3 linked regions of the Homo sapiens genome follow. The protein of the gene in region 3 interacts with the protein of the main gene of each other region in a pairwise test. Each region holds a gene or a part of one and is shown on either strand. Other genes may lie near its edges.

Region 1 (5,844 bases), on a different chromosome or scaffold from region 3:
GGCTACCCATTTGTTTTGTCCCTAAAGTGCTGTGTTACATTAGCCTTCTCCATAACTCTTTGCAGGTTAGGACCCCTTGACTACCACTCTCACTTTCTCATTAACTGTAACCCCCTGACTTTTGGCAGTTGGGCACTGCCACTTTAGCCACTATTTTTCAGAATCTTGTCATACATTGCCATCAGCAAGCTGAACTCTGTTTTCTTTTCCTACTGTCTGTATGGCCTACCATGAGCTACCACACGTTTTTAGAGATGCTTATACCCCATCATCAGTGCACATTTCTATGGCACTGTTAAATGGTGTGTCCACTGAGCCTTCCCATGGAACATAATCATCTCATCTTCCAATCCATTCCAGCATACCCAATTCCCTTAACCATTTAAATCCATTCTTCCACCATGTCACAGTAATCCCAGTGTTTCGACTTTGCTCAGAAAGGACCATTACTTTTTCCATATTTCAAGAAGCCATCCTGGTAATGAGTTCGCACCATCTCACAGGATCCTAGCCAGGTTATTAAAACCCTCTAATTTAACTCTTAGCAATCCAAAGATCCAGTGTCAGGGCTGCCATCAAACTCCTCCCTAATTTTATGTTTTGACCCTCTTAAGCACTGATTCCAATCTCAAGCATATTCCTCCAACTCTTCGTAATTCTTGCAGTTCTTTTGGGGCATAGTCTTGTTTCCTCCCACTTCAGTTCCAGCACCTCAACTGAGTTTTGCTTAACTTTATCGTCACTTAACCCTAATTTTAGGCCTGGAGATACTAACTATAATGGCCTAGAGATAGGGCAAGTCTTGAAGAGAGCATGTTTCCCGAGGAAAGAAGCCTCTGCATTGTCATCCAGCCTGAGAATGAAGTGGGGAGTGCTTGCCCTTAACATGGAGGGGTGGGCTATGACTGCAAACTCAGAAATGCAGGAGTCTGGGGAGTAAAAATCTCCAGCACCATCGATTCAGATGTCTCCATCTAATTTGTCAGGGTCACAGGTTTTCCCAAGCAGTTTGCCGATGCTGGCATAATAGACTTGCCTTGGCTGGCAACTGTCTTTAAATTTTATCCTTTGAAACTATTAAGTCTCGGGCTTGCTCCTCAGTTTTTTCAAGCCGTCCTACTGCAAAAGGTGAAAAGCTTTTTCACATGCCACCAGAGGCCCTCTAACTTTGACACCTGGCTTTCCATTGCCTGTTATTGTCCTTGGCTGTTAAGTATGCTTCTATAGAACAAAAATGGCTTAACAATGGCCATTCAACCCTGTTATCCTCATAGCTACAATTTTCTCCATACATCTAAAATGTGAGGCAATCAGATATTGTCTCTCCTTGTACAACTACCCAATCCCTATTAAATGCCAGTGTTAAGTTGTAACAACTGGGACTTGTGACAGGACTGTCCTCCACCTATCAATGATGGGGTCTGGGCTGCTTATCTTTAAGTGTATACCACACAGTCTCTATTACCTATTTCCATATGTGTGAAAACTGAAGCAGTTTGTAAAAAAATTAGAATGCTTTCCAAAACAAACTGAAAATACAGAACAAAAAATTAAATATAATGTCAAAAGTATTTAAGTGAAATAATAGATTTATTCAAAGAGAAATAAAATGTCCTGGGTAAAGCTTCTGTAATAATACTATTTCTGATACTGTATCTCTGAAAAATGGCTAACTAGTCACCTTATCAATACATTTAAGGCATCAATAATAGGTACCACTGAGGACATACATTGTGAAGAAAGAGAAGAATAAGTCAAATACTAAAACATACTTATCATGACAACTCAAGGTGACATGAATATTTAATGAAAATTTAGAATATAACAACATATGACTCTCATTCTGTGGACATAAAAGGAAAAATACAGTAATTCATTTTACTCATTACATTTTACAAAATCAGCCCAATGAAGCAGTATTTTTTAATAAAAACAGTAATTTAATTTCAAACAAATATATTACCATCCTATTCCTTTATCTTGTATATATGTATCTAATTGGCAAAACATACTTTACTGAAATCAGTAACAATCCAATCCATGATACTTCAATTGCTTCGATCAATAAACATCTTAAATTTGAAACTCATTTTTCTTATGCCATAAGCCTGATTATCAGTTCTATAAAAACGCTACACCCTATTGCTTGGCCCATTAAGTGTAACTAGTCTTCTGCACAAGGCTAAGTGGCTAAGGTACTTTTGAACAACCACACACAATTCATCAAGCACACACACTCACTCCTGCTCCTCTCACACACGGCCACCAGAGCAGCTCCCCTAGTTCTCTTGTTCCTCATAGTGAGCATAGCCACTAGCATAGGTCCTTCCTAAATTCAAATTAGTAAACAAATCTGATGACTCAGTATCTGAATCCTTTCTGCCTTCATCTTCTTCCTCTTCATCATCCTCTGCTTCATACTCATCCTCCTCCTCATCGTGGTAGCTGGTATCACCATACTTATCAGATGAAAGGTTCTTCCAATAAGCATCATACCCAGAAGCTCCATCTCCCTCTTCACCTCCAGTCTGCCTGCCAAATTTCAGGGAGCGTGCTATAGAAGACAGACAAGTACAAGGCATTTTGTTAGTTCCAGTTCTCTACATTCTCATCTTCCTCTATAAAATTTCATGGATTTCATTGGCTGCTTCAATCCCAAATGAAAAAATAGGTCACATTTTCCTAATTTTTTCACCTGAGTCTATATACAACACCATAAAAAATAAAAATTACAGTGTAATTTCATTAAATCTAGAAAACAAATTAGACCAACAGACCACTCCAAAGGTATTAAGGCATGTTTAAAACAAAAATACCTTCCGTTTGGCCACTGACAGTTTATTTTCAAATCACATAAATCACAGAATACAGCTGATTTCGTATCAGTACATTTTTCTTAAGACAGCTATTTTACAATGCAGATGCCCTTAAAAACAAAGCCTGTCATTTCTTCTGCCTTAATAGTGACACAAAGTTCAGTGCAGAAGATCAGCAAAATCATCAGTCTCACCTCACCATGCAACTACATCTGTGATTAAACAAAGCAGTCAGTCACTTAGAATTATGGTTCCATTCTGATATGTTTGGTTAAGAGTCAAACTTCTCTTTAACAAAATTGCGAGCTGCATTACTATAAGCATGCTTATTCCTTCACAAAAAAAGTTACATAAAAACCATAAAATAATTTCCTATAGTAGTGCTATATTACATAAATAAACATAGGTGCTCAAATATCACACACCTAAGATAGCTTCAGAGTGAATTTGACTTCTAGGTACTTAAAATTACCACCACTTTAATATTAAGGAATTATAGCTACTCAACTATTTAACAAGGAAGACTCAACAAAAATAAAAAAAAATCACTCTTTATCTTAAATTTCAGTATTTGCTGTCATTAACTAAGGCAAATACCAAATATCAAAATGAATATTGGTCTATTTAAGTAAAACTGAAAAACTTTACCCACATATTTTCCTAAGCTGTAAAATTCCACTTGCTTAAAAGAACACATTCATCTTTTCAAATAAGAAGAGGCAATAAGAAAAATAGACCAAAAAAAAAAAAGATAAACTTTGTCTAAGTATGAAAGCAAAAATCACTTCCTTAGTATCTTAAGGGCCTTACTTGACATGCTAAGGTCCTTAGTCTCCTGAGTTTCATGCCCACATTTAGGACAAGGAGGCTGTTTTCCTTTTTCTTGCTTAAACACTTTGCTCCTTGTATGATCATCACAGAAACAAGCCTGTATAGGAGAAGCAAAATAAAGTAAATAAATAAAAATGTAAAAATATACAAAAAGACAGTATTCAGTGTTTTAAAGATATAGCTTTATTAAGGCAGTGAGATTAACAATTTTGTTGGGAGCAGTCACACTTCTCATTTCATTTTCTTAACAGAAATGGTTTTTGTCAGGACCCTTCTGAACAATGATCTAACAAAAGGCAGACTATATTGAGTATGACATGTAAGTACATTTAGCTGTTCACAAATATTTCAGTACTCATAAGGTCCCTGATGAAATGAAATAATGGTGAACAGCCTATTTACTCTCACACAGTGTATGGTCTAACTAGGGATGGAGACAGTGAAAAGGCAATTACAAGACACTAAGCACTGAACGGGAAGTGCAGAGGGAAGGGCACTAAAGCAGACATGGGATTTGGGAAAGGCATCTTAGAGACACGAAGTCTTAATAGCCATATGAAGAATGGGAGGGCAATAGGGTAAGCCAAGATGGAAAAGTATTCCAGACAAAGAAAACACAGATAATGCCTGAACACCATTTGGTAAAACTAGAACAGAGTTGGAAGATAAATAAGACATAGGGTTAGGAATATAAGAACTAGAGAAACGCTTCTGAGAGGAAGGGCATTGGCTGCATCTGTTTAGTAATCTTTGACGAACGAATGCTAGAGACTAGGCCTAAGGACACAGAAAAATTTGGAAATCTTTACCCAAACTCTTCTAAGCAGGTATATTTTGACATTAATTAAAATAGACTCTCATCATCTTGGTCAGAATGTTCTCCACTAAAAACACAGAGCCAGGATTCCAGAGAAATGTGCACTAGCCACAGCTCTACTAAAAGGTGACTGGATGACCATTGGAAAGTCATGTAAGCTTTCTCAACTTCAATTCCACAGTCTCAAAAATAAAAGAATTAGACTACATAATTTTAAGGTCCCTTATAAATTAATTATAGCTGCATATAAGCCAAGGACTGGTGGAGGGGTATAGAGATTAAAAACAAAATCTAAAAAGAAAAAAACGCATTGGTATACCTTACAACGGAGACATGAGTGCTGACCAAGCCGATTGCATGAAACACCTGTGGGAAATAGATTAATTTTAAAATCCCGTTATTTGGTTCTTAGAATTTTCTTTTGTCTTTTATCAAATCACTAAAAGCTTGCAATGGAATATAGCCTTATAGACAGCTGCCTGTCTTTTGGGTTCAAATGCTATAAAACACACAAAGCTCCCATGCTGCAAATAAAATAATTAAATTTATTATTATACATTCTGCAAAAGGCGACGAAAGGCTCAAAAATGCTATATACTTCGAGATGCTCTTTTAATCTGAGAATTTTATATATAAATATTGCAAGAATTATATACACATGCATACACATTGTGTGTCTATGTGTGTGTAGTATGTATGTTGTATGTATATCACAGAGATGACTTATCTACTTTAAATTTATAAATAAGTATAATAATTAGGATTTCATACCAGAACAAGAACCAAATTAAAGGAAGAGAATACCTGGGGAATTTCGGTCTTTTTCCTATAATAGTAACTACTATTTAAAAAGGGCTTTTTAAATGCCAAGTACCACATGCTATTGTTTTATATGGTGTCTCATTTCAATGAACCTTCCAAGAAAAAAACTATGTGTAAAGATGATACTATTACCCAGTCAGCAATGCTGGCTCTCAACTGGAAAATACGTGAGAATTTTGTGTATAGGTTAAATACAGGTGCCTGGCACCCACCACGGACTTAAAAGATAGAATCTCCAGGGATGAGGCCTGGACATCTACATTATTTTTAAAACCTCCACAGGTATTTTTGATATACAGTCCTGTCTAAGAATCACTAGAACCAACTAGCAGAAACAAACAGGGTGGTATCTCTTACGGGAGGGCATTTGGAAATGGGAAGGAAGGGTGAGGTTTGGTTTTTTATAATAATTTGAAGGTAAAAATGACATGTGGTACTCTGAACCACGAAAGGTGTAAGTCCTGCAATGCCTGATCAAATCAAGCCTACAAAATGAAAAACTGGCCCAACCAATATGCCACTGGCATCCCTGCTGAAAAATTTACAACTATATTCTGA
Region 2 (8,541 bases), on a different chromosome or scaffold from region 3:
TCCTGAACTGAGCCATTGCCCTTAAGTTTCTCAGGGCAAACAATTTTCATACAAGCACATGTTATTTTGTTTGGGGAAAACTGAGAAAACGGAATTCAATAACTGATTCCCTTAATTTATTTTAATAATTTTTTTAAAAAATGGAATAATTTAACAAAACTAATTTATCTCTCCCCCCCAACTTAGTGGGAAATAACCATTTAACAAAATTAAATTCATTTCTACATTTTGAAGCTGATAATGAGGGTACTGGAAAAACAAGCAAATATAAGTGTTTGTGTCAGCTACATAAATTATTAACAGATTAAAACTTCAGTGGAAAGTACAATTAGTCATCACCAAGGATAAAAATACTGGGGATTTAGAATGAGCTTTTCTTTCCTTTGATATGTTGAAGAAATATTGACTAAAAGGAAAATCACAATAGTTTCTGTTTAAATCTATGTACACTTATTGAAAATAAAATTTTATTTGCCAATTTCAGCTGAAGGTATATTTGTCAGATATTGAGATAGATTTAAATTAAAGATATCTTTCTCGTGTAACAATTGCATTAGGTGTTCCATAAATTATCTTCAAAGATATTTTATTTCATAGACATCTTGATCTAGCACAAACTAAAACAATATTGAAAATGATTATGATCCTGGTATGCTATTAATACGTATATCTCTCATTGCTTATAGCACATTTTAGTATTTCAATATTTCTAAAATATAAAATTGAAGTGATTTCGGAACTCCTGAAATTTAAAATTGTATTAGATAAAAATGTCATCCTATATAGTGAGATCATTTGTATTTTGTTAGGTAGTTTATAATTACTTTGCATTTATGGTTGAGAGAAAATTCAGTACATAAATCCAGGGTAAAGTCAGGACCAAAATTCTGTATCCCTGCATCTAATACTTAGACTGTATGTGTATGTGCTAATTCTAATTACCGTGTTAAATTCTAATAGAATTTTAAGCACCAGAAAGTATTGAAAAACAGCTTAAATATTTATAAACCTTACAATTTTATTCATAGTAACGATTTAAAACTATAATACGTAAGCTTCTCTAGCATATATTTTATGCACTTTCCCTCCACAAATGCACATGGACACACACATATGCAAACTCTAGCAGCTTCATGTTTTGGAAGCAAATATTTATGGACTTTAGGCTTCCTTTATGTAAGTTTATTGACAATTGAAAATAACCAAATTTAATAGAAAAACACACCATTATATTTTATATGTGTTAAACATTTTTGTAACTTTGAACCTGCTACGCTTTCCAGCATTATTAGCAAAGCCAACATCTGCCACGTCTTCAAAGGGACTCTTAAAAATCAAAACTTTACAACTGCTGAAAAAAATCACTACAAAGCAGGTGATTCTGAAAAATGTCTATAAATAGTGTGAATTGCTTGGCTTCAATTACATTTGGTTGCTCTTTGAGCAATCTAGTAGTAGGAATAAACTGCCCAGTTTTAGTTAAAATAACTAAAATTAATTCATTGATCGAACTTTAGCTTTTGTGCATGGTTATACAGTGTACATATCTAGATATTTTCTATTCAAATTTATGATACATATTTTATAAAAAATAGAAATTACATCAAAAAAGAAAAGAGCGATTTGGGGAGGTAGACTTTACTAGGTTTTGAATCATATTAGATTCTTGTAAAATTACAAATATTTTATTTATAGCTACTATGTCATAAAACCTTTGCTGTCAAATTATGTCTGTCTATATGCTTGACTATGCAGAATGACTAGCAAATATTACATTTAATAAGTTGGAACTTAAACTCAGAGTAATACCTTATCAACCTCATTCAGTATGATATTGTAATATTTCCAAGATATTTCAATCATTGTGTTTTCTGAAAGGAATAAATTAGTGTTATTATTCATTTCTGTGTTACTGGATTGTGGCTTTTCAGCATTTGCTTTAGAATTTAAAAAATAATATACTGGATCTTGAAGATTAAAGTGAAGTATTGAACAAATCAAATGGAGTACAAAAAAAAACTTCCATTCTTTATCTTGGACTGGTAGACTAATTTTAGGTGTGAACATTTAAAAATGGTAATCTGACATAAAAAATTCTAAGTATCATTGACCTACATGAGGGCTCTAAAATGTGATCTAAAATAATCACACTCAAGTTAAAAGCAACAATTCCTTTAGAATTAAAATGCTTTATTGTTGAACATTAGCAATGAATGGAAGGAAGAATGCAAATAAAAGTAGGAATAGTTTCCAATTCTGTGTAAATTTCTTCATTTATAGTTCATTTTAAAAGAAAAATCATAAATGCAAGGCATGGTATTGCACAAACTTTCACCGGGCTTAGAAATCCAGAACTTAGTATTTAAAGTTTTAATCTTTGTTTATGGTAATTATCAATAGAAACCTTTACAATGACATCTTATAAGCTGATCTTTACTAATAAACTGAAAAAACAGTACTTCAGTCATTACCCCATTCTCCCTCTGTGTTTCAAAACATAGACCGTTCATTATAACTCTGGAATTTAAGTTGTAATATTTATAATAAAATCTAAACATCCTAAGAACTTAATTTTAAGCAAAAATGAAATATCAGAAAATGTCAATCCTTTCTCTTAGATTCTGAGAAATTTGGGAGGTGAATTCCATATGTAATGAAATAATTACATTTTTTTTTGCACTTAAGAAATGTAAATCTATAGATGAATTAATAGCTGAATTATGTAAAACATCACCATATATAAGCCCACTACATGTACTTAGCCTGATAATGCTGCCTTGCTTGCGAAATTTTATTCATTTAGTGTTTTTATAATGGCAGCTTGACACACACAACCTAATATGAAGGTTTTTTAGATTTTAATTTCAAATGAGAAAAACCAATATAATACAGCAATATATTTTAGTTTTGAACTGTATTCACCTCAGGAATTTATTTCTAAATTTTCAGAGCAAATCTCTTTTCCAAGCACTGCTATGAGGGCTGCAAATATCTTTGAGCGATAAATACTAAGGATGCAGAAATATTAGAAAATAAATTACAGGTAGGAATTTCTTAAATAATATCTGTTGAATTAATAGTTGTGGATTATTTATCTCACCCAAATTTTCTTTATTTTTCTCACTTTTTTTTTTGATAAATGAAACATTTTGTGCAGGAAGATATATAAGCATTTCCCCCCTTGATTGTAATAATAAAAAGAGAAGGCTTAATTCTCAACTGGCCAGTTACATTGTATTTCCTGGCTTATAGTATTGGTAAATGATTTCAGTGGTTAAAATCAAAAGCAAAAAAATAAAATAAAACACAAACTAAGGCCAAAGTCCACAGATTAAAAATTGAAGTAGATGTGATTTATTTCCTATTTAGCATATTTAAGAAACAAGACACATTTTGTAGTCACAATTTGTTTCTACATATCATGTGCTTTAGATGTTAATATGGTTTACTGACATACATGTTTTGTAAAGATTGTAAATATAATGAGGCACTAACATTTTGCCTACTTTCCTTAGGATGCTCTCATGACTATTTCTTTTACTAGCGTGTTGAACTGAACCCCCAAGTAGAAAAGGAGTAACGGTGTAAAGTAAAGTTAGTTGCAAAACTCTCTACATTACTCCTAAATCACAGTCATCAGTGAGATTCAAAATCCCATTGGAGAAAACCTCGCAGAATATTTTATGTGTTTTAATGTAGTAAAACTTAGAATGGTCAAGAACATATAGGGCTCAGCCTACAATTTGCGTTAGAGGCAGAATTAATCTAAATCTGATGCCCATTTCTCTAACAGTTCTTCCCGTTTTACTTACATTATAAAAATATTGAATTTTTTAAAGAATGTTGTACTAGATAGTATTTTATGATACAAAATAATCAATAATGTATCTATTGATCCATTTGTGCTCATCTCAGATGTTGTTTTTATGTTTCAGAATAAGTATTTTCATTTAAAATCTCTTGACATTATTTATTACCAAATTAACAGAAAGTTACATGGTAAGTGTATGATCGAATGGGTTATTAATTTTCATGGGTCATGAGTGGGTTTTTAATTTTCCTCTATATTTGAAATTTTTGATATATAATTTCCGGAATAATAAGTAGCTCATTATTCCTGAAGCTTTCATTTATAATGTTACTTTGTGTACAGAAATATAATATTTCTAAATTTATATATGTTACTCACTACTAATTGTGCACTGTATTTTTAAATATTGGTTTTCACAGTGTTATGAAAATAATTTACATTTTTTTGGTTTCTTACATCACCATATGCACAAGAATGATCAGGTAGAATCCGTACTGTATCTATACATTTTTGGAAAGGGTTTGTATGAAAGATAGAAAAACCCTTTCAAAAATAATCCCTTGTTTTATCAATAGAATTAGAAATTAATAAACTGGATCATTAACTTGTATGATAATATTGTTATTTTATTTTTAAAATTTCCATTTATTTAAATGTTTAATAATTCTAAAATGTTTGTGTACCTTGATGACAATTCTTATGTCCTTACAATGTGTACTTTTATTGCAAATATAACATATTTTTACTAGGTAGTAACTCAGTGGTAAAAACTTTAGGGTACTGATTATAGCTCTAAATTCAAAAGCTGTTGCTCTTCAAAATTTTGTAGAATCAATTCAATGTGAATGTTTCAAATGTATTTAAGTATTCTGCTGTTTGTGTTCATAAGCTTTCTTTCTAAGATGTTAGACGTATGTTTCTTAAAGCTTGCATAGGCTACATTGATTAAAATTATGATTATAAGCTGCTTACTTTCATAGTTTTTTGTTTTTATTGTAGTCTAGTAGAGAGGACAATGGCAAGGAAAGGATAAAAGGGAGGGTGCTGAATTAACTAGGACATGGAAGCTATACTTAAAACACACGTTAAAAGAAGGCGTTTACTTTATATATGTATATACATATATAGGTATATGCACACTCACACCCACACATATATATGCATGCATTACTGTAACTCCAAATTTAATTTCCTGATAATAGTAAATCTGAATTAGAGCATCCTTATTAAATGCATAATATGATTATAAATGTTCCAATTACAAAATTAAATATTAAGCTTGAAGCATATATAGTTTTGTGAAGAGTCCAGCAGGCTTAAGCTGGCAATCAATGATAGTTATAAAAGTCCCTGCAGTTTTTGTTTTCTTTTGTTTTTCCTCTTTATTTAGCTCATTATTCTTCACACACTTCAAGAGAATCCCATAATGCTACAAGGAAAAAACAAATTCGCAGTTATCTTACGTGACTGTGGGCAAGAAAATGACTAAGGTGAAATCATCTGTCAGGCTCCGCAAAACCTAGAGGAGGGTCCAGCTTAGGTTGGCAGATGCCAGTAGAATTTTAAAGGCCTAGAATTTTACTCTTTGAAAATATAGCCTTAAATTTTTGCCAGAAATGACACCCAAATGAAAACTTATTTTTGCAAAGTGATAGTTATTTGCAAATGCAGTAGTGAAATATATTCAGAGTCTGTTGAGGTAGCTTGTCCACTGTCTGGACTGCACAGTAAACATTTGGATGGTTATTCTTAGCCACCCAAAAAACTAGCAAACTAAACTGAGGTGTATTCTTATTAGTTGAAAAGATTAAATGGGCATGCCTCTTATCAAATTAACAATGAATGCAAAGCAAATTTTGCAAATCATTGATTTATGTTGGTAGGTAACACAAACAGGAAACTATTCAGAAAAATAAATATGTGTTATCCGAAACGTAATGGGGACTAGCTTGGTTTTGTAGAACAACAGCAATTTAGCAAATAACTTTCACATTTAAAGAACCATATAAATAATGCTTTAGCACTCACTGCATAGGTTGGAATCAAGTGATGTCTTATTTAATATTATTCAAAGATAAAATGAGGTCTTAGTATGTGTAGTGCCTTTAACAATTAAAATTTTCTCACCTATAGGCTATGCTTACGTGGGAATTTCTTTTTCTTATTTGAAGTATAAACAGATCTGGATGCATTAAACTAGACAGAATGTAGATGTAAAAATGATTGAGACATATTAAAATGACAGGAAAGTCAGAGTTTAGGCATCCCTATTTGGAGGCTTGCTGCCACCCATGTTTCTAAGATTACAGTCTTGTGAATGTCCACACTCAAAATTCAGGGAATTATAAATAATTTTTCCTCCAGAACTATTCTTTGCTCCTGGAAGTAGAGCTGTATAATTTATTTTCTAGAATACCCAGATGTTTAGGAAAGTATAAGTAAGTGGCAACACTTTTGCATATTTAGCCATTAGTTGATAAATCATAAAAGATTTATCCTATTTCTTAATTATCATATTAGACAAGGAAATAGATGTCACACTCAAAGGGATAATTGAAGAGAGTTTGATGATGGCAATTTGATGGTGAGTAGAATGTAGGGAAACCACAGGAAATGATGAATCCCCCAGGGTCTGTCCACAGTTGGAATATATTAGCACCCCTAACCTGAGAGGGTAAATGCAGGGACCTCTTACCAGAATCCAATGAGCGCAACAGGACAGAAGCCTTCTGGAAAAGTTGGGACCTCAGATGGAGGATTGCAGCTCATGTCGAATATCATCCAGTAACCTGTCTTCATGTCCTCCAATCTTCTTTTGTTGCTTCCATTGATCAAACACTATCCGAAGCCAGAACCCCGGAGGGTTAGGTGGATGCAACCCTAAGAGTCAACCGAAGAAGAAATGAGGCAAGCATATCTGGGAGAACACAATAGTTAGGGCTAAACCCCCGCTGTGTCTCTTACTATTGTCACCTCTTGGCCACAAATTTAACTTTTCTCTACCATCGTTTCTGAAAAGGAAATTGAGTTAATATACACAAAGCAATTAGAACAATGTCTGGCTTAGTAAAGTGTCAGTTATTATTTTTATCATCTATCAATGAATGTACAATTATGTAATGCATATGCACCATCTGAAAATAATCTATTTTATGCTACCTGTTTGCATTTTATTACAAATACTGCTATAGGAAATGTAACTTGCCTAAGTAATTACTAAAGATTTAAAATAATCATTGTCCTTAGAATTGTAAACGGCATGAAATTTCCCTGAAATGTAAGGTGAATTCTAGCCAAGTTATGTAAGAGGCTCAAGTTGCCTTTCCCACCCTTAAGATTTCCATTCCACAGCCTCTTTTACTTGGACCTCTCCTAACTTCCTCTTCTCTTGGGTCTCCTGCTACTTCTCCATTGAAAAGCTGTTTTCAGGAAGAGTGCATATTGAGCAAAATAAAGAATAAAATGAGGACTCTTTTTTTTTTTTTGAGACCGAGTTTTGTTCTGTTGCCCAGGCTGGAGTGCAGTGGCGCAATCTTGACTCACTGCAACCTCTGCTGTCCGGGTTCAAGTGATTCTCCTGCCTCAGCCTCCTGAGTAGCTGGGACTACAGGCGCCCGCTAATTTTTATATTTTTAGTAGAGACGCGGTTTCACCATGTTGGCCAGGCTGGTCTCGAACTACCTACCTCAAGTGATCTGCCCACCTCGGCCTCTCAAAGTGCTGGGATTACAGGTGTGAGCCACCGCGCCCGGCCAGAACTTAACTTTTTAAAAGGAGTGTACAGAGGGGCAGGGCATTTAGTCAAGAGGAAACAGAATTTAAATAAAAGGAATTCAAATATGACAATGAAATTTTGGGTCTCTGTTTTAGCTGTTAACTAGGAGGGTGGGAATGACATTTTCCTGCTATGTTAGAAACTTTATTGCAGAGAGAATTTTCTTATTGTTGCTCTGTTATTTTTAGCAGTTCCAGTTGCAGACCCTTAGGAATGGCAAATGTGCAAATATTACTAAAAGCTGAAAACATGTATGTCCCACACAAAATGCATGAACAGAATTTTATTTTGGTGATATAATTTCTTTTTACAAAGAACATATTTTAATTATTTGTTTGTTCACATTTGCATATTTAATACGTTATTGAGAAATATCACTTAGATAGAGATAAAAGAGAACAACAAACCCCTGGAATTGCAAGTCCTGGGTGGTTGACTGCGTTGACTCAGTTTAGTCACCTCTCCCACATCCATAAGGCAGTGTGCAGAATTCAGACATGACTTCAGCGAAATTTTAAATGATCATATATGCGAGACTTCTACAGTGCCTTTTGAATAAATAATAGAATCAAGCATTATATTAAAATCACAAATGCAGAGTTAACTTTTTAAGCATTTTCAGATCCATAGCAATTTGATCCCTAAAACAAGAGAAGTTTAAAGGAACAGAGAGTGTTTCTCTGTTAGATAATAGAAGAACTGGGAGGATGTAGGTAGAAGAGTACAGGAAGAAGAGCAAAATATTAAATGTCCGATAATACACAGCAGGGACAAGAAGGGTCCAACGGCATCAACCAGTGCGTTGACTCTTTGATTTTAGAGGAGGCTTGATTTGTCAAAGTTTTCTTAATGAATTGTAACCTGTAATATTTAAACAGATGATTAGAATCAAAATAATCAAGACACTAGAAGAGCCTCAAGGCACTACCCAGTTCAATGAATGTATTTCCTAGAT
Region 3 (9,099 bases):
GAGATGCCAACCCTGCCCTTGCCTTTCCTCCCTGGTGATTCAGGGAACAGAGCCCTTCCCTAGGGAACAGGTTTGAAGCCCAGCTAAGACAGGGCCCCTGTTTACTCAGCAGAGTAGGCAGGAAGTGGCAGCTGGATACTGCCACACCACACTGCCTCATTAATCATTAACCATGTATGAGCTTGAACGATCAGGGAGACACAGGCCAAAACAGCTGCCGCTGCCACCTCCACTCCCCTCGCCCCTAGGCTGAGGATGGGAGACCTGTAATCTACCTGTCTCAAAGCTTCCTCAGGTGTCTCCACCCAGAGGCCCTTGCCTAGCAAACCGGCTAGGCAGCTTTGACTAAGCTACTCACCCCAGGAGTGAAGGAAGGAAAGAACTAGTTGAGTGTTTTTAGGGGGCCCTAGTTCTTGACACAGGCAGATGCCAGCTTGAGCCCAAGCAGCTTTAAGTTTTGATCTAAGACAAGCTAGAACTGTCCACTGCTAACCAACCTCCTGTAGAATGAAGTCACACCATTGCCGACTCTGCACCATTCCTCCTTCCCAGGCAGTTCGCCTGAAATGGCAACCTGACTTTGGGCCCCTTGCACCTCTTCTCTCACTCCAGGAACACTGAGACTAAGATCTACACCAACCTGCTTCCACTTTATTCTTGTTTACACATTCTCCTGCTCCCAGATTTGGAGTCAGAACACTATGTGAGCTCAACAGTCCTGCTCAGAGCCATGTTCCATATCCCACCAGTTTCCCTTTTCCCAACCCCCACCCACCCCCACTCAGTAAGTCCCCTTGCCCAGGTTTTGCTCTTGGAGGGAAGAAAGCAGAAGAAAAGATGCAGGACTGAGATGATTGTCCTGACCCCGCTACCCCCAAGTGTAAGAGAAGTCCTGGATGGAATGGGTGGTGATTCCAATGAGGGATGGGAACCTCTTTCCAAGGCACAAGGGGCCATCTTCTCAACATGCTGCTTTTTCAGATTTGGGTAGTATGTTGGCCAGGAGCTGGGGGCTGAAGCGCCTCCAGCTGACTGAGGAGGAGAGGAATGTGAGGACGCTGATGCGGGTCCACGGTCATCATCGAGTTCAGGAGCTGCCGCAATGCTGAAGAATGCCTGTGGAGGGAGGAGCCCAGGGTGACCGGATGACACCTATCTGTCAACTCAGCTAATACCAGGGGGGAGTCTGAAACACTTGATGCCCTATTCGTTGCTCACTCACCTGGGGCTTTGTGGGATGCTGAGTTGGTTCTGCACAGCAAGGGCCACACTGTCACCCTTTTGGAACACCATGTCATAAGGGCCTTCCCCAAACATCATGGCATATAGCACGCAGCCTAGGGACTGAGCATAACTTGATTAGTCCCTAGAAGGGGACCAGTGGAGGTGACATCTCTCCCTTTACTTCTGTGGTAAAAGGAGACTCCATAAGCTAAAAAGAATACGCTGACCTCAGCCACATGGCACCACCAGGGTCCAGAGAAACTGCCAGTCAGCTGGAGGCCTCCGCAGCCCCTGTTTAGCTTAGCCCCTGCTTAGCCAGTGCCTTCACTACTGACACTGAGCTGTACTCACCTTGTTCAGGGGCACAGATTATACCACATCCGGTACAACTGGGTACAGTATCAGTGACATTTCCCAGGAAGGAAGTTGAAGTGGATGGGGACATATTGTGGTTCCTGGCGCCCCATGCAACAGAAACCAACAACCTACTCTACTCCACGGTGGGTACAGAGCCACAGCCCTCCCTACCCAGATACCCACCCACATGCTCCTCACCCAGACATCAGTCCGCTCATCGATGACACAGTGACTCTGCACAGAGAAGAGCTCTGGGGCTCGGTAGGAGATGGTGCACCGCTGGGCTGCCCAGTCCTGGAACAGTGATCCCAGAGCTCAAAAGTGGGGCACAGGTCATGGTCATGTGACCAAACTGGGACATGCACCAGAAGGGGTGGGAATGGGGAACAGGTGAGAAAAGGAACCTGGAGACTCTTTTACCTGCAGGGTCAGAGCCTGGCGGGAGCCCTCCACATGGATGCATGCTTGATTCATGGAACCCAAGTCCATTAAAACTGGCTGCCCCTCATCTCCAAGCAATATATTGGTGGGCTTCAAGTCTCTGTAGAGAAGTAGAAGTGACCTATGAGCATCTCTGGACAGGAAGGCTGGAATCCCAGCAAGCAAAAGAATCATACAGGCTGTTTCTTGGGAGAACAGAGACCTCCCATGTCTCCTGGTGAGGCTCTTCCTCTGGGCCCCAGCAAGCACACAGGGTCCTCCCACTGACCTGTGGGCATAACCCTTGGCATGAATGGCCTCAAGGCCTCTGCAGATCCCCAGCAGCAGCCAAAGGATTTGATCCTCGGTCAGGAAGTTGCCTTTGTCCTTCAGCCTTTCTATCTCATTCCACAGCGTACCTCTCTGCAACACAAGTTTCCCTACAGTTGGAGATGTTTTTGGAGCCTCTGCTCCTTAGGCCTGATCCCTTCCCTATGTCAAAGCCTATCAGCCCTTTCATGATACACACCTCAAACTCAAAATCTAAAGTGGCCAAACCCAGGACATGGTCCCTGCTTCCTAACATGCTGGACTGCTCACACAGCCCTTGAGTAGGTGGCTCTGCTGCAACCCCCTCCATAACCAGGAGTCTTTCTGACCTTGAAGAATGGTAGCAGCAGCCAGGCCTCATGCTTAGCACCCCGTTCCCTCAGACAGTAAGCCACGAGGCGAAGGATGTTGGGGTGATTGAAGAGGCGATGCATGTCGGCTTCTCGCTGGGCCTCCTCCCGGTCCTGCTGCTCGTGACACAGGATTCGCTTCAGGGCGTAGAAGTGTCCATCATGTAACCCTTCCACTAGGTCCACATAGCTGAACCCACTGTGGGCCAAAGGGGTCAATAAAGGGCCATGGTCATCTCCCACATGGCTTGGACCTAGAGAAATTTCCTGGTGGGGAGTGGGGTGTCCTTCCCATTTAGCAGAAACCTTCCCAAGATGTGGCTCTAAGAGAAATCTGAAGAATATTACACCGTGAGCTCCTCAGGAGCAGAGATATAGAAATCTTTGAGGTCCTATGGTCGTAATAGAGACCTCTGCACTTGACAGATGCTAAATAAATAATAGCCAACACTTATCAAGTACTTGTCAACCCCGCATTGGGTGAGACATTTTATACACATTATCTCATTTAATCCTCACAACTCCATCAGTGAGGGATAATAATCATCTCCATTAAGCTGATGAAAAAAACATGGTTTATCAAGGTCACACGAGGTGGATTTAGCAGGCCTGGCTCCAGAATCCACCTTCTTGATACTGTGTAGCTAGGTTCTGTCAGGTGAGAGAGGACAGGGATAGGGATAAAACCCTTGTGCCCCAAGCATATGCACACCGCTGTCCTTCAATGATCATAAACTTGAGGACTAGTTAACTGACTTCCAAACACTCACCCCTCCCCCAGTTTCTGGATGAAGAGGTAGCGCTTATTGTCAATGATGACAGTTCCCCGAGAGCAGACACACAGCGCGTGGCCCATAATGTCTCAGTCATCCTCTTCAAGGACGGTCTGAGGCTACCGAAGAGCTCGTCCAGGGTGAGTGGGCTCTTCCAGGAGATGCGCTGGGGGCCCAGCGGATCATGCTGGAAAGAAAACAACGGCAGGGTCACAGGTCCGGCACAATCCAGACGACCCATGAAGTACCAATGCGGAGAGCTCAGGCCCAGGTCTCTGGAACCTACACTATAGTGTAGAGAAAACAGGCCCTGCTCCGTCGCCAGCTTCAGGGGTGGGGTCAGGCGCCTTACGGCCTCAGGACACACAGCGGCTACCGGGCCACTTCCTCCAACCCCAGCCCATCTTTGGGCAGCCCCCGCTCCCACGCCCATCGCGCCGCAAAAGCAGAGCATAGCGTAGTTTCAGAGGACGTGCGAGGCTCAGGCCCACTCCTGGCAGGGCCCACCCCGGTCTAGGAGCCCAGAGCCCGGGATGGGCCATCTGCACTGCCGGACTGACCTGGCTCGGGCCAGAGAGAAGCGCCACCGACCGGAAGCAGTGCTGACATCATCAGTCCGCGCCGGCGTAACGGCCCGCGGTATCTCAGCAACCGCTGGGCATCCGGAGGATGTGGGGACGCGGAGCTGAGAGGCTCCGGGCTAGCTAGGTGTAGGGGTGGACGGGTCCCAGGACCCTGGTGAGGGTTCTCTACTTGGCCTTCGGTGGGGGTCAAGACGCAGGCACCTACGCCAAAGGGGAGCAAAGCCGGGCTCGGCCCGAGGCCCCCAGGACCTCCATCTCCCAATGTTGGAGGTAGGAGGCTTCATACCTCTGGCGCTCTGGGGCAGAAAGCGGCCAACTACACTGCAGCCTGGAGGGGGATCCAGTGAGGGGCGGGTCTGGTGGCCTGGTCTCCTGATCCCGTACAACCTTCTGGGCTCTGGCCTGTATCCCACTACCCCTAGTCTCAGTGGTTAAGAGCTCAGGCTTGTGAACCAGACTTCCAGTTTCTAAATTGAGTGTTAATAGCATGCTAGCTGTGTAACCTCGGGCAAGTTACTTAACCTCTCGGATCCTTACTTTTGGTAGCTGTAAAATAGGTATAATAGTACATAAGGTTAAGTAGCTTAACTGTGAGGCCAGACTGACTAGTTCAAATGACAGCTCCGTTAACGTAGTTGTGTGACCTTGGACAGGCTACTTAATGTTTCTGTCCTTTCCTCTCCTCCTCTGTAAAATGGAAATAATTATCTACCTCATGGAGTTGAAGATTAAATGAGATGTACAGTGTTTAATACAATATCTGACACATAGCCTTCAGTACGTGTCAATAAACCGTAATTATTATTACCCTGATCTTCACATCCCATTCTTGAGACTGTAAAGGCAAAAGGAACGGAAATTCACAGATTTTCGAGCTTTGGCACAAAGCAGTTGTCCTTAATATCTGTTGCGGAGGCAGGCAGGGGTAAGCTGGAGAGGGGTGCACTTCCAAAGAAGGTGGAATGGCCAGGAGGGAATGGCTGTTTTGCTGAAACAGGACTCTCCAGGAAAGAGGTCCTTCTTGTGACCTGGTTCCTCCCTTCCACACCCCGGATCACCCTGAAGATTTTCCAATGGTTTCCCCTGGTTCTGAACCTGTTTTAGCCTTTTGGTTATGACATTGATTCATCCAGATTTAACCTACTATATACCCGGCCCTGTGCTAGAGGCTGAGGATTTGAGATGAACAGGGCACTCCCTGTCCTCAGGGAGCCCAGTCAAGTAAAGCCATGCTTCTCAATTTTGAAGGTGCCTAGGATCACCTGGGAATCTTGTTAAAATACAAATTCTGATTCTATAGGTCTGAGGTAGGATCTGAGATTTTACATTTCTTTTGTTTGTTTGTTTGTGTTTTTTGAGACAGAGTCTCGCTCTGTTGCCCAGGCTGGAGTGCAGTGGCAGGATCTCGGTTCACTGCAACCTCCGCCTTCCGGGTTCAAGCAATTCTCCTGCCTCAGCCCCTACCCCCACCCCCACCCCCACCCCCACCCCCACCCTCGGAGTAGCTTGGAATACAGGCGCGTGCCACCAGGCCCGGCTAATTTTTGTATTTTTAGTAGAGACAGGGTTTTGCCCTGTTGGCCAAGCTGGTCTTGAACTCCTGACCTCAAGTGATCCACCCGCCTCGGCCTCCCAAAGTGTTGGGATTACAGGCGTGAGCCATCGTGCCCAGCCAGATTCTCCATTTCTAACAAGTTCCCAGGTGATGTCGATGAAGCTGGTTCGTGAACTGCACTTTAACATGATGTAGAAATTTTACAAACTAGTAGAGTAAGGGGGTGGCTGCAGGCTGGAGAGGAAGTCCAGGCTAAACGCCTGGCAACTTGAGGTGGTTTCCGCCCCCTTGCTCGCTGAGGTTCCCTCCCAGGAATCCGACACGTGACGGTCTGTCCGCCGTCTCAGACTAGAGGAGCGCTGTAAACGCCATGGCTCCCAAGAAGCTGTCCTGCCTTCGTTCCCTGCTGCTGCCGCTCAGCCTGACGCTACTGCTGCCCCAGGTAAGATGAGACGGTGAACCAGCCTGCCGGGTGCGGTGAGCGGGATCAGATCCAGCGGATGAGAGAAAGTCCAAAGTAACAACCAAACAACCCGCAGGGCTAGTTCCATCTCTTCCGCTCTTGGCAGGCGCTGACCCTCGACGCTCCCTCCAGGCGTCTGCTGAGCAGCGTCTCTTTCTCTTTATAGGCAGACACTCGGTCGTTCGTAGTGGATAGGGGTCATGACCGGTTTCTCCTAGACGGGGCCCCGTTCCGCTATGTGTCTGGCAGCCTGCACTACTTTCGGGTACCGCGGGTGCTTTGGGCCGACCGGCTTTTGAAGATGCGATGGAGCGGCCTCAACGCCATACAGTTGTAAGAAGTGCTCGCAAGAGCCGCGGAGGGATGGGATCTACTTTTTCTACCGCCCCCTTATAAAGAAGGTCGGGACAGGAAGACTGCCAGGACTCCTAGGCCAAGGGTGGGAAAGGGCAGGCCAGGACCTCCTTCCAACCGCTTCCTGGAGATTCCCTGCAAGGCCTGAGCCGTTAGGCCTCCCTGGCGTCTCTTCACCTTGGTTCCTATTAACCTCTTCCTTTCTCAGTTATGTGCCCTGGAACTACCACGAGCCACAGCCTGGGGTCTATAACTTTAATGGCAGCCGGGACCTCATTGCCTTTCTGAATGAGGCAGCTCTAGCGAACCTGTTGGTCATACTGAGACCAGGACCTTACATCTGTGCAGAGTGGGAGATGGTGAGTTAGCTGGAGAAGGGATAGAACCAGTTATCCTTGTGCAGTTCCTAGACTACTCCCATCTGCCCACACTCTAGGGCCATCTCCAGCACTATATTCAATTCCTTCCCTTCCTTCCTTCCCTTCCTAGCTTCCCCACCACACCCCAAAACAAAACCTACATGCTTCTTTGTTCTCTTTATGTTTGTCTCAGGGGGGTCTCCCATCCTGGTTGCTTCGAAAACCTGAAATTCATCTAAGAACCTCAGATCCAGGTGAGTTGAGACAAAGGATTTAACACAGAAGCAAGTAAGTAAAATGGGCTATTTGGGTGCCAAAAGCAGAAGAGACCATTCCCAAATTGGAGGTCATCATTCATTTACCAAGTGTTTCCTTCATGCCCAGCAGGATGCTAGAAACTGGGGGACCAGACAGACCCCCATCCTTGTGCCGTAAAGCTTATAATATAGTGGAAGAAACTGATTAAAAAAAAAAAAAACAGCTGGGCGCGGTGGCTCATGCCTGTGATCCCAGCACTTTCAGAGGCCCAGGCGGGTGCATGACCTGAGGTCAGGAGTTTGAGACCCACCTGGCCAACATGGCAAAATCCCATCTCTACTAAAAATACAAAAAATTGGCTGGGCGAGGTGGTGGGCACCTGTAATCCCAGCTACTTGGGAGGCTGATGCAGGAGAATCACTTGGGCCCGGGGGTCAGAGGTTGCAGTGAGCCGAGATTGAACAACTACACTCCAGCCTGGGTGACAGATTGAAGAGACTTTGTCTCAAAAAAGAGAAAATCCTATCAGCTGTATCTTGACAAACATTAAATTTAAGTGCTTTTTATCACCCCCATTGCCCCCACCCTGGTCCAAACCATCTCTCTCAGCTGGCTTATTTTATAGCTTCCTAACTGGTTTCCCTTGTTTGCCCTCTCCCCCATACAATCTGTTCTCAGTAGAGTAGCCAGTGTGATCCTGTTCAAGTATAAGTTTAAAGATACATCTCAGATCTTGTCATTTCTCTGCTTAAACCTCTCTAGTAGGTTCTCATCTCATTCAGAATATGAACCATAAATTCCTTAAAGTGGTAGGTCCTACACAATTGGCCCCAGTCACCTCCTCGACATTATTGCTCTTCTCCCCCATGTTCACTCTGCTCCAGCCACAGTGGCCTCATTGCTGTTCTTCAGACCCACCAGGCCTTGGGCTTTGAGGCCTTTGCATGTGGTGCTCCTTCATCACAAGCCTCCTGCAGAAGTCACCTTGGTGAGGCCTTCCTGGTCTCTCTCTCGCTCTCTCTATACATACATATATATGTATGTATATATATATATATATATATATACACACACACACACACACACACACACACACATATATATATATTATTTTTATTTTGTTTTATTTTTGAGATGGAGTCTCGCTCTATCACCCAGGCTGGAGTGCAGTGGCGCAATCTCGGCTCACTGCAAGCTCCACCTCCCAGGTTCACGCCATTCTCCTGCCTCAGCCTCCTGAGTAGCTGGGACTACAGGTGCCCACCAACACACCCGGCTATTTTTTGTATTTTTAGTAGAGATGGGGTTTCACTGTGTTAGCCAGGATGGTCTCGATCTCCTGACCTCGTGATCTGCCAGCCTTGGCCTCCCAAAGTGCTGGGATTACAGGTGTGAGCCGCCGCACCCGGCATAATTGTTATTTTTTTTTGAGACGGAGTCTTGCTCTGTTGCCCAGGCTGGAGTGCAGTCACGTGACCTTGGCTCACTGCAACCTCCGATTGGGTTCAAGTGATTCTCCTGCCTCAGCCTCCCGAGTAATTGGGATTGCAGGCACCTACCACCTTGCCCGGCTAATTTTTTGTATTTTTAGTAGAGACAGGTTTTTGCCATGTTGGCCATGAGGGTCTCAAACTCCTGACCTCAGGTCATCCACCCCTGCCTTGGCCTCAGAAAGTGCTGGGATTACAGGCGTGAGCCACCACACCCGGCCATCCCCTCTATATTTTAGTCTCCCCATATACCACCATTTTTGTTTGTTTGTTTTGAGATGGAGTTTTGCTCTTGTTGCCCAGGCTGGAGTGCAGTGGTGCAGTCTCGGCTCACTGCAACCTCTGCCTCCCGGGTTCAAGCGATTCTCCTGTCTCAGCCTCCTGAGTAGCTGGGATTACAGGCACCCGCCACCATGCCCAGCTAATTTTTTTGTATTTTTAGTAGAGACAGTGTTTCACCATGTTGGCCAGGATGGTCTCAATCTCTTGACCTCGTGATCTGCCTGCCTCCGCCTCCCAAAGTGCTGGGATTACAGGCGTGAGCCGCCACGCCCGGCCCATTTGTTTTTAAGAAACACTATT

What was found.
Region 1: the proteins of STK16 (region 3) and ZNF330 interact in binary tests that used the Homo sapiens proteins (3 or more experiments, as listed by UniProt).
Region 2: the proteins of STK16 (region 3) and MEOX2 interact in binary tests that used the Homo sapiens proteins (3 or more experiments, as listed by UniProt).

The regions. Positions count from the first base shown.
Region 1 is NC_000004.12:141,230,425-141,236,268, reverse strand, and holds the end of ZNF330 (zinc finger protein 330), read right to left. Parts: intron 4,831-5,844; coding exon 4,784-4,830; intron 3,745-4,783; coding exon 3,627-3,744; intron 2,555-3,626; coding exon 2,280-2,554; 3' UTR 1,572-2,279; downstream 1-1,571.
Region 2 is NC_000007.14:15,675,613-15,684,153, reverse strand, and holds part of MEOX2 (homeobox protein MOX-2), read left to right. Parts: intron 1-2,173; exon of another isoform or gene 2,174-5,240; intron 5,241-6,506; exon of another isoform or gene 6,507-6,691; intron 6,692-7,993; exon of another isoform or gene 7,994-8,134; intron 8,135-8,541. UniProt on the Homo sapiens protein: Mesodermal transcription factor that plays a key role in somitogenesis and somitogenesis and limb muscle differentiation. Required during limb development for normal appendicular muscle formation and for the normal regulation of myogenic genes.
Region 3 is NC_000002.12:219,240,438-219,249,536, reverse strand, and holds the start of STK16 (serine/threonine-protein kinase 16), read right to left. Parts: upstream 4,059-9,099; 5' UTR 3,741-4,058; intron 3,642-3,740; 5' UTR 3,538-3,641; coding exon 3,452-3,537; intron 2,881-3,451; coding exon 2,661-2,880; intron 2,425-2,660; coding exon 2,291-2,424; intron 2,123-2,290; coding exon 2,002-2,122; intron 1,876-2,001; coding exon 1,780-1,875; intron 1,345-1,779; coding exon 1,223-1,344; intron 1,117-1,222; coding exon 978-1,116; 3' UTR 1-977. Other genes in the region: GLB1L (beta-galactosidase-1-like protein isoform 1 precursor), read left to right, coding at 5,964-6,035, 6,223-6,389, 6,619-6,769, 6,963-7,023. UniProt on the Homo sapiens protein: Membrane-associated protein kinase that phosphorylates on serine and threonine residues. In vitro substrates include DRG1, ENO1 and EIF4EBP1. Also autophosphorylates. May be involved in secretory vesicle trafficking or intracellular signaling.